Homo sapiens: one gene and its partners. The protein of the gene in region 3 interacts with the protein of the main gene of each other region in a biochemical or structural test. Each region holds a gene or a part of one and is shown on either strand. Other genes may lie near its edges. The genes, in order: FIP1L1, CSTF2 and CSTF3.

Evidence for each region.
Region 1: the proteins of CSTF3 (region 3) and FIP1L1 form a complex in vitro, tested with the Homo sapiens proteins (one study listed by BioGRID).
Region 2: the proteins of CSTF3 (region 3) and CSTF2 form a complex in vitro, tested with the Homo sapiens proteins (one study listed by BioGRID).

The regions. Positions count from the first base shown.
Region 1 is NC_000004.12:53,387,553-53,391,307, forward strand, and holds part of FIP1L1 (pre-mRNA 3'-end-processing factor FIP1), read left to right. Parts: intron 1-2,256; coding exon 2,257-2,321; intron 2,322-2,968; coding exon 2,969-3,076; intron 3,077-3,456; coding exon 3,457-3,587; intron 3,588-3,755.
Region 2 is NC_000023.11:100,818,270-100,822,024, forward strand, and holds the start of CSTF2 (cleavage stimulation factor subunit 2), read left to right. Parts: upstream 1-2,121; 5' UTR 2,122-2,147; coding exon 2,148-2,205; intron 2,206-3,257; coding exon 3,258-3,336; intron 3,337-3,755. UniProt on the Homo sapiens protein: One of the multiple factors required for polyadenylation and 3'-end cleavage of mammalian pre-mRNAs. This subunit is directly involved in the binding to pre-mRNAs.
Region 3 is NC_000011.10:33,105,865-33,109,619, reverse strand, and holds part of CSTF3 (cleavage stimulation factor subunit 3), read left to right. Parts: intron 1-1,201; coding exon 1,202-1,234; intron 1,235-1,619; coding exon 1,620-1,717; intron 1,718-3,555; coding exon 3,556-3,622; intron 3,623-3,702; coding exon 3,703-3,737; intron 3,738-3,755. UniProt on the Homo sapiens protein: One of the multiple factors required for polyadenylation and 3'-end cleavage of mammalian pre-mRNAs.

The DNA of each region.
Region 1 (3,755 bases), on a different chromosome or scaffold from region 3:
TCTGCAATTTTTCATACCACTAAGCTTCTCTACACAGGCTTCTCTACAAAGGCTTGTGGCTTAAAAAAGAAAAATGATGTTTTAAAAGGCAGAATGGGGAATAGAAAGTAGCTAGGTGGAAAGCGAAGAAGCTCATTTATTGAACACTTGTGGCTAAGCCTTTTATAAAAATACTGTTTTATTCTATACGGTCCTGTAAGAGAACAGTTTAGAGAAAATCCTTGATTTTTGTACATTTGTAGAAAAATCATGTACATCATATGTAGATACCGCTAAGTCACTTTTTCTGAATTTGGATTGTTAAAATGTAAACATCGTGAAGGCAGGAACCGTAATTGTCCAGCTCCTCATACTTTTTCCTCAGCCTAGAACCATACTTGACATGGTTTGGTGCTCAGTAAGCATTACATGAATTAATCAGCCTATGAAATGATTATTTCAAGTTGGTGACGATAGTACTGCTTGACAGTAGTAATATTTGGTCCACTTTGTAATTTTTGCATTTCTAGCTGTGGAGCTACAGTTATTTGATACAATTAAACATTTTATTGAATTTACATTTTTCTTTTTTAAGTAGAAAAGAAAAGTGACAGTGCAAATGTAACTAAACCTAAGTCTTAAATGTAGTACATCAGAGACAAAAGATGGAAGTAATTATTATTAGACCCAAAGCAGTGAATCTGAAGTCCAGATGGCTGAAGTTCTGAGAGAAAAGAACCAAATATATAACATGAATATAATGTGAGAAATATATCATTATAAACATCTGTGACTTGAGGTCTTACTGATATCTTTTTTTTTTTTTGAGATAGAGTCTCGCTCTTTTGCCCAGGCTGGAGTGCAGTGGCGCGATCTCACTGCAAGCTCCGCCTCCTGGGTTCACGCCATTCTCATGCCTCAGCCTCCTGAGTAGCTGGGATTACAGGCGCCCACCCCCATGCCTGGCTAGTTTTTTCTATTTTTTAGTGGAGACGGGGTTTCATGGTGTTAGCCAGGATGGTCTTGATCTCCTGACCTCGTGATCCACCCGCCTCGGCCTCCCAAAGTGCTGGGATTACAGGCGTGAGCCGCCGTGCCCGGCCGTCTTACTGATATGTTTTTGTTCAGTGGGAGTTGGTCCTTCTTTGCCCATTCCCGTTTTCTTCTAACTTCCCTAGTAACAGAAAAGTCTCTTTTAATTAGTATATTTGATAATACTACTCATATATAAGAATCCATTATATAAAGAAGTAAAGAACTGTCTGTAACCCCGTATTACAGAAAATGTATACAAGGCTCATTTATACAAGTAAAAATGCAATGAATTATTCAAATAATTGTATACAAGTCTTAGGTGTTTTGGCCAAGATTACACAACTAGCAATTGACAAAACATTTGAATGTGGGTTGGTCCAACTTCAGATATTTTTTTCTTTATCACTGTGTATTATATTACATCTAAAAAGGTGCAGCTTAATATTTTTTCAAATATATACATTCATGTAACTACAGCCAGATCAAGATATGAAACATAATTGGCATCCTAGAAGTTTCTCTCATTTTGCCTCTTGGTCATTAACCACCCACCACCGGCAAACACTGTTCTGCTTTCATGCTAGACTTATTTTTGAATTTCTTGTCAATAAATTTCTGTTATGGACTGAGTACTCCATGAATAGTTGAAAAAGGATTTATTAACAATATCAAATGCAAGAAGAACTGAAAGGCCACTAGATTTGACAACAAGTTGGAGGAATTTTACTTATGCTTAAGAGTGCTGTATATTTAATAACTGGGAGGCAAGGAAATGAAGACAAGGGGTGTAAACTATTTTTCCCTTCTTAGCCTTATTTCTTGTGAAGTTTGTTACAGTAGAATGTTGAGTTATTGGCAAAAAGGTTTTTGAAATGGAAACAAGTCAGGCTTTTTTTTTTTACTGTTTTTGCCTTTTATTGAGCAAGTGACTTTAAAAATCAGTTTAAAATGTTTTTTAAAATATGTGTTAGCTGGGCACGGTGGCTCACTCTTGTAATCTCAGCATTTTGGGAAGCCAAGGTGGGAGGATTGCTTGAGCTCTGGAGTTCGAGACCAGCCTGGACAACATGGTATGAGATCTCATCTATACAAAATTTAAAAAATAAAGATAGAAATAAAATGTGTGTCACACTATCCATTTACTATGTGATTGTATAATTTGTTTGTACAAATGGAATATATTACTGTTTTGTTTAAGCTTTTCAGGATAATTTCTGTTTTTTTTTGTTTGTTTGTTTTTAGGAGTTATGGTACAGCACCTGTAAATCTTAACATCAAGACAGGGGGAAGAGTTTATGGAACTACAGGTAAAATTTGTATTTTCTGTTGCATCAATAGGGAAATAAGGCACATATCTTAAATAGGTCTTAATAGCTTTTTTTTTTAGTCGGGGACAGAGTCTGGCTCTGTCACTCAGGCTGGAGTACAGTGGCGCAATCTTAGTTCACTGCAACCTCCGTCTCCTGGGCTCAAACCATCCTCCCACTTCACCTTCTCAAGTAGCTGGGACTGCGGGCGTGCACCACCATGCTTGGCCAATTTTTGTATTTTTATGTAGAGACCAGGTCTCACCATGTTGTTCAGGCTGCTCTTGAACTTTCGAGCTTAAGTGATCTACCTGCCTTGGCCTCCCAGAGTGTTGGGATTCCATGTGTGAGCCACTGCGCCCGGCCAAGGTGATAATAGCTCTTTTTAAAGAGTAATTTTTGACCGTACATCACAGAGACTGGTAAAGTTTTTCTGGCAAGAGTCCAGTAGCACGTATTTTAGGCTCTGCTTTGTTTGGAACCCTTGCCAGGTTTTTTGCCAGGAATAGTAAAAAGATGTTTGTTTTCTGTTTGTGTGTGTATATGTGCCAGGAATAGTAAAAAGGTGTTTATATTTTCTGTTTGTCTATGGTATCGCCTGGCTTCTTGCAAGTATAGCTCCTTCATTTTGTAATTTTATAAAACAGGGACAAAAGTCAAAGGAGTAGACCTTGATGCACCTGGAAGCATTAATGGAGTTCCACTCTTAGAGGTAGATTTGGATTCTTTTGAAGATAAACCATGGCGTAAACCTGGTAAGATTATTGTGGATTATATTAATTTCAATATTTTCAGTGTGAAGTCATCAGAAAATTTTTTTGAACATCAATTTAGAATTTTATTTTTTCATTATAATTTTAATTGTCTTAAGCAAATGATGAGTAATAATGACTTGGGATTATTAAATCTTACTGGTGGCCTTGTATTACTTAAAATGTAGACTTATTGTTTATTATAATGGCGTTTGTAAAGGGAATAATTTGATCAAAAATGATATAGTCTTTTTGCCACCATAAATGATAGAGTGATAACTGATAGAACTCTAAATTTATATTTTTATAGTTTAGTATATTTTTGATGCTGCATAAAAATAGAGCTGAAATATTTGTACACTAAAGTTGTGTTTTATCTTTAGGTGCTGATCTTTCTGATTATTTTAATTATGGGTTTAATGAAGATACCTGGAAAGCTTACTGTGAAAAACAAAAGAGGATACGAATGGGACTTGAAGTTATACCAGTAACCTCTACTACAAATAAAATTACGGTAATTAATAAATACTCCGGAATACCCTTGGCTTGTCTACCGTCCCACTTTTACTCCCCAAATAAATCGCTTCCCTATAAAAGTGGTTAAATGCTATATGATAGTTTAAAAATTCCATTTTGTTTACCATGTTTGTTTTTCCCTTCCCTCCCTTTTAGAGTTTCGTAT
Region 2 (3,755 bases), on a different chromosome or scaffold from region 3:
GTGGAAATTTGTTACACAGCAATAGAAAACTAATACAATGAGGACACAGCAAGTGCTTAATAAATGTTAGCTTTTATTATTACTAACTCATTGGGATCAGCTACACAGTTGTAAGAAGGCTAAAGTAAAAATTATTTATGCAAGGCTGGCAGTGCAACATAGCATTCAGATCCAGGGTCCATTTGGTCTAATATGGCTGATATTAAGTGTTTCTCAAGGGGAGAGACATTATTGGCATTCAGTGGGGGGAGGGGTTCATCCTGTAGAACTGCCTTGGACATGGCAGTCCATTTATCATCTCTGGCTTCTCTTCCCCTAGCAGTAGTCATTGCAACAACTGAAAATGCCACTGTACATTTCCAAAAATGCTCCTCCACAAGGGTTGAGAACTTTGAGAACTACTTTAAGGGAAATTTCATAAGAAAGCATGCGTGTCTTAAATGCTGCCATAAAGCTACCTCAATAACTACAATGCTACTCAAATTACCTGACCCTAAGAATCGCCAGTGGCACTTGTTTAAATATAACGATTCCCAAGTTCTTTCCCTGGAGTCCCATTCCATAGGGCTGGGGTGGAGCCCCAGGAATCTATACTCTTACTCAAAGACCCCAGGTTAATCTTTTGTTTATGTAAGTTTGCCAAACACTGAGTTAGAAATATACTCAGCCGTACATGCATTTAGCAAAAGTTCACCACAACGGAACAATGACACACCAAAACTCTTTGAAACTGTGCCTTCTACAGAGCTGTAAATCTCCTTTTGGACCATTCCATTACACAAGGTGTCCTCTTGGTCACACAGTGATTGCAAATGGGACTCTAGAGTCATGGAAATGGGTATACTCTTCTCAAACTTTCCATCTTTACCAGAATTACTTCTTAAAGTGATATGCTTCATGGTGTAAACTAGCACTTATTAATTTTTTCTAAATATTTATCATATTTCATATACTTTTATTTTGGAGATGGAGTTTCGCTCTTGTTGCCCAGGCTGGAGCGCAATGGCAGATCTCGGATCACCGCAACATCCATCTCCCGGGTTCAAGCGATTCTCTGGCCTCAGCCTCCTGAGCAGCTGGGATTACAGGCATGCGCCACCACGCCCGGCTAATTTTGTATTTTTAGTAGAAAAGGGGTTCTCCATGTTGGCCAGGCTGGTCTCCAACTCCCGACCTCAGGTGATGCGCCCGCCTCGGCCTCCCAAAGTGTTGGCATTACAGGCATGAGCCACCGCGCCCGGCCCATATACTTTTAATACATGTGGAATTAATAAAAACGTCCATGCCTCCAATTCCGTGGCTATTTTACCGTCTTCCTTTTTCGGACAAGTCCCTCAAAGGTAGCGCTCTTGGCTCCTTCCTTTGCTTATCCCCTAACCCTGTCCTCCTGAGGTGCCCCCTGGATTTCCTCCAACCCCGGCAGGGTCTGCCTTTCCGGGATGATACAACGACCTGCCCTGCATGCCATATCCCAGGCGCGTGGGCACCAAAGTGTGGAAAAACCGATGAATGACGTTTTCTGTTTCCGATACTCTGCCTGCCAGAATCCCCTGCCGCACCGCCCCACCACGAAGCACATGGAACCCACGGACTACACGAGGACAGAGGTCTGTTCTCCCTTTACCTCTCCCATTTCTTTAACTATGCTTCTCTCGGCTGGCATGCCCTTTCCTCATCTCACTCCACACACGAACAGGTTTAGCAAATAATATGCACGCTGCTGGGACGGGCCCAAGCATTTCCCTCCCTTGATAGGGCGGAACTAAAATGCAAGCCCCACAGTTGTCAGCAAAGGACTTCCCTGTTACCATGGTAAAGCCGCTGCGCCTTTATTGTGGTTGAGGAGTACTTGCATCAACCTAAGAGAAAATTAATAAGAAGGAAGTCTGCAGGCTGAAACCCTTCAAATTAGCCTGGACTCGCCTGCATCTGGCTCGGAACAGAGTTAATCTCAGGAGTGAGAATATAGCCCTCCGGTGGACGCAACTCGCGCCTGCGGCTAACAGAATGTCTCCAGGGGAGGGGCTCTGCGTCCGTTCCGCCCAGGCCCTTCCGGCTCACGCGCCGTACGGAAGCGTGCTCAGCGCTGGGCTTGTGCTCCGTACGGAAGTGTGCTTTGGCGCACCGGAAGCCGACTCAACAGAGCTATGGCGGGTTTGACTGTGAGAGACCCAGCGGTGGATCGTTCTCTACGTTCTGTGTTCGGTGAGAGGAATTCGTTGTAGTCAAGCTTCGGGGAGGGACTCCCCTCTGCACCTTCTATCTCATGAATCGCTACCGGAGCCGCTGACGGTTCGGACGTGCAGTTCTCCCTGCTTATCCTGTAGGGCGTCCAACCTGGTGGACTCATGAGCAAAGAGATATTCCCATTCTGCCGAGGTCTCGTAGGCTTTCCGCAATATCAGTGGGGAAGTTAGACTAGCGTTCAGCTTCTGTGCGTTTCTCCTTTCATGAGCTTCAATTATTCTCTAGAGGAGAAGGCTCACGGTAACAGCTCCTCACTGTCCCGTACTACTTCTCATCCTCTGCCCCAGAATACAGACTATATGCTGAGGGTATAGATCCTAGTGTCCACTTACTGTCCTCTCCTAAGGACTTTCATCCTTTGCTTTTTATCTGTAACATTTTAGTGCATCAATAGTGGTAGCGGCCACCTGGTGTCCTGAGATGGCTTGTAAGTGAATGAATGAATGAACTATTAAGATCTCCTCAGAGGAATTTTAAAAAGGATCGAAACGATTCTGAATTATCTTTTTGGCTGAAATAAGTTGTTTTTAAAAATACGTGTGATTATTTTAGAGTACCATTTGAAAGGGACATGACAAAGTAGTTCAGAATACTTTTTAAACATCTTTCACTACATTCATCGTCATTCTCCCTTAAATGTTGTATGTGTGGAAATACATAGGAACCTGTTTTAAAAATTATATTAAATAACATTGATATTTTTTGTAGTCACTGATGAGACTTGCAGATCTTTAGGTAAATACCAGTGCCAAAGTATTTATTTGCACCAAAGTTAAGGAAAATCTAACACGTGTCAGATCAGTCTGAGAACTAACATTTGAGAGTACCTACACATTTTGTATTTAGTTTCAGTGGTATATTTCCTTTGTTAAGAGGTCTGAAGAAATACAATGGAATTGGGATTGGAGAACACTATTTTGAGTCTTATATTTGATGATATAAGTTTACTTTCTCACTAAAGATCTATGTTATAAACTCAGAATTTTAATGTTACCTATTTTCTTCCTTAGTGGGGAACATTCCTTATGAAGCTACTGAAGAGCAGTTGAAGGACATCTTTTCTGAGGTTGGACCTGTTGTTAGTTTCAGGTGAGATCCCCTTTTCCTTCATGGTGGGAGCTTCTTAAAAATCACCACAGATTTGGCTCTTAGTAATAATGGCAGGTTTTCTTTACTGGTGACTTTTCACATACATTTTGTTCTTGTAACAGCTTTATTGAGATATAATTGATACACTATACAATTGACATTTATTCTTACCTAAAATATGTTTTTTTCGTTAAAAATGTTTTTTAGGCAGGGCATAGTGACTCAAGCCTGTAATCCCAGCACTTTGGGAGGCCGAGGCAGGCGGATCACCTGGGGTCAGGAGTTCGAGACCAGCCTGACCAATGTGGTGAAACCTTGTCTCTACTAAAAATACAAAAATTAGCCGCCGTGGTGGCCCATGCCTGTAGTCCCAGCTACTCAGGAGGCTGAGACAGGAGAATTGCTTGAACCCGGGAGGC
Region 3 (3,755 bases):
GCCCTGACAAAGTAGGTATTATTATCCCCCTTAATCAGCTGAGGGAAAAAGAGGTTAAGTAGATAGCCAGATTGTGAACCTAAGAGGTCTGACTCCAGAGCCTTGATTGAACTGCTTCAAAGTACAAAGAGCTGTGTTTAAGTGTGTGCTAAAATTTATGAACTCTAAAGATCAAGATAAAAAAGTCCAGAAGAGAACAAGTTATCAGCAAAAGCAAAAAAGACTGTCATCAGCATTCTCACCTGCAGTAGTTTAAGCCATAAAACTGGGAATACTACTCTATTACTGTACTACTTGAGATAAAAGGACCAAAACTTCTCTAATCAGCCAAAATATTTATTTACCTATCTGGGTGAAACAGATTTGCTGATTAACACAGTTGAGCACCTAACCCCACCCACTCTGTGATGAAAATACTCAAAGAAAAGAGAAATCTAATAGTATTTAATCTTGGTCTTTGCACATGCTATTTCTCCTGCCTGGAATAACTCTTCCCTTTCTTCAGCAAATAGCTCAGATTCTCCTAGAAAAAGTTATCTTTTTCCCGGAAATCTTTTGCAATTCCCCAAGTCTAAGTCTTTTGCTCTTCCAAAATGCTGTAGCACCCAGTACTTTCTTCATTTTAGCACTTAACCATAATATCTTACAATGACCTTCCACTTCGTTGTCTTATTTTCCCCATAAGATTGTAAGCTCTATGAGGGCAGGGGCAGACCTGTCTTGTCACAGTGGTAGCCCCCACGCCTAGCACAATATCTGCAATATATTAGGTTGATGGTGTGACTGAATGTTTATATGTAGTCCAAATTTGCATATCTTTTTTGCCGCTCAGATTGTTCTGGTAGCTATACAGGGAAAGGAAAGCCTTAAGTTTTTCTTCAGTGGATACATCCTATTCAGGTAGACCTATCGGGTATGTGTATATTTCTGTATTCATCTCATGACTTTTACAGAATTTTATTAAATTCACAAAATTTATATGTAAATGTATGAAAATCCATATAGATTCAATTTACACAGGTATATTTACAATGCATTTTATCCATGTTTGCTTCACACTTCTGTTATTTTTGAAAGTAACAGAAAAATTAATAAGAAACTATAGGGATGAATTTGCAAAGTTGGTTAAAAATTGGTCAAAAATTCAGACTGATGCTCTAAAAAAATAGTATTAATTCTATATTTTTCTGTTTCTCTTCAGATTAAAGCTAAAAATTATGACAAGGTTGAAAAGGTGAGTCCTCAAATACTTTGAATTTTATATTGAAGTTTAACTTAAAACCTAGTATGTATAAGACAGATGTAGTAAAATGTTAATAATAATTGAATCTAGATAGTGATTTTTTACAAGTTAATTGTACTTATTCAGCTTTTTTATATGCTTGAAAATGTTCATCATAAAAGTTTTGGAAAAGGAAAAGAAAATAATTATACTCCCCTGACAAATCATGAGAAGCATTTTAATTATCTAAACTGAAAATGGGGAAATTATTTGCTTTTTATTTATAAGAGATAAATTCATAAAGGGAGCTGAATTTGTGTTTTTAATGTTCCATTTCATCTATGTCCATGTGAAATTTATTTAACTGGATTCTGATAATATATTCTTGTATTTAAAGCTATTTCAGAGATGCCTTATGAAGGTTTTGCACATTGATTTATGGAAGTGTTATCTTTCATATGTCCGAGAAACCAAGGGTAAACTACCAAGTTACAAGTAAGTGAAACCAGGATCTTAAGAATGCAAGTCATCTCCAGGCACACAGTTAATCCCACATAAACTCACACCTTCTGTTAGCCCCAAGTGGGAAGAATTATCAGGATTTGAAAAGTCAGGATTTCCTAAGAATTAGTAACCTTGAAAAAAGTGCTTCAGAGAAAGTCACTGGCATGAGTCTTACTCTGGAGAATTGAATCGCCCAAGCCCTTTCTATACTGAAACACTGTATAATTGCAACACCAAACCACTTTGTTGACAGACTTGTCAAATTTTTTCAAAAACCATCTTCATACTTGTGCTAGTACCACTTTTGTGAGGTCACAATGCAATGTGCTACTTAAGTGATCTAAGGGGTCTCTGACATTTGTAGTGATATAAGGGATCTCTGACAATTGTATTGTGAAGTTGCCATCCCCACTCCGAATTATACCCACCTCCCCATCTTTGCCAAATCTAAATAATGGACCTTCTTCTGAGGTGCCATTTTTCTATGTAACTAACAGGCAAGTTATGTCTGTTACTAAAATTCTGTCTTTATTGTCTTTTCCTGATTATACTTTTTGTTATGATTTTTGTGTTTTGAGACAGAGTTTCAGCTCTGTCGTACAGGCTGGAGTGCAGTGGCACAATCACGGGTTCACTGTAGCCTCAACCTCTTGGGCTCAAGTGATCCTCCCACCTCAGCCTTCCAAGTAGATGGGACTACAGGCAAGAGCCACCACACCTGGCTGATTTTTTTTCTATTTTTTTGTAGAGATGGGGTCTCCTTATGTTTGAGACTCCAAACGTAGCAGGGTCTCAAGCATAAGTTAATGTCCCTAGGCTGGTCTCAAACTACTGAGCTCAAGCAATTCTCCTGCCTCAGCCTCCCAAAATGCTGGAATTACAGGCATAAACCACCACACCTGGTCTGTTTATTGTCTTATATTGAAGTGGAAGTTCTTTTTCCCTAATGTACCCTTTACATTTTAACATAAGTTGCATTTTAATAAAACTATACTTTCCAGATTTCTACATTTTACTTTAGAGCTAAAGATCTTAATGTCTCATTAATGAGAGAACCACAAATTTCCACATTTGAATCTGCTATGTATAGAATTATGCAACTTAAATGATATAAAGATAAGTAAGACATGAGCCTTATTTTTGATAAGCTCACAAGCAGTAGATAAAGGAAACAATTTATGATCTTGACAAGCTTAACATCAAAGAACGACTTTATATACTTAAAAGATGTCTTTAATTTATGTTTATAGAGAATGTTCAAGTGTTGTTCTGATCCTGTGATCAGAAGCTACATTTTAGTTATATATACATTTATTATTTATTTATTTATAGAGACGAGGTCTCACTGTGCTGCCCAGGCTTGTCTCCGACTCCTGGCCTCAGATGATCCTCCTGCCTCAGCCTCCCAAAGCATTGGGATTCCAGGAATGAACCACCACGTCTATCTTCAAATAATAATTTATTTTTAATTTTTTTTAGAGACAGGGTCTTGCTCTGTCACCCAGGCTGAAGTGTAATGGTGCATTCATAACTCACTGTAACCTTGAAATCCTGGGCTTAAGCACTCCTCCCACCTCAGCCTTCCGAGTAGCTAGGATTACAGGTGCACGCCACCATGCCCAGCTAATTTTTTTAATTTTTATTTTTTTAGAGACTGGGTTTTGCTATGTTGCACAGGCAGGTCTTGAATTCCTGGTCTCAAGTGATCCTTCTGCCTCGGCCTCCCAAAGCAGTGGGATTACAGGCATGAGCCACCATGTCTGGCCTAATTGTAGATAAATTTTAATAACAAAAAAATTTAAAAACCACGTCTTTCATGTTCATTTCAGAGAAAAAATGGCTCAAGCATATGACTTTGCACTGGATAAAATTGGAATGGAAATTATGTCCTATCAGGTAGAGTTAAAACTTTTTAATGTATGCACTTAAATGTAAGAATACCAAGAAAGATATTAACATTTCATTTTATTTCTTAGATTTGGGTGGATTACATCAATTTCCTAAAAGGCGTGTAAGTATTTGTATAGTT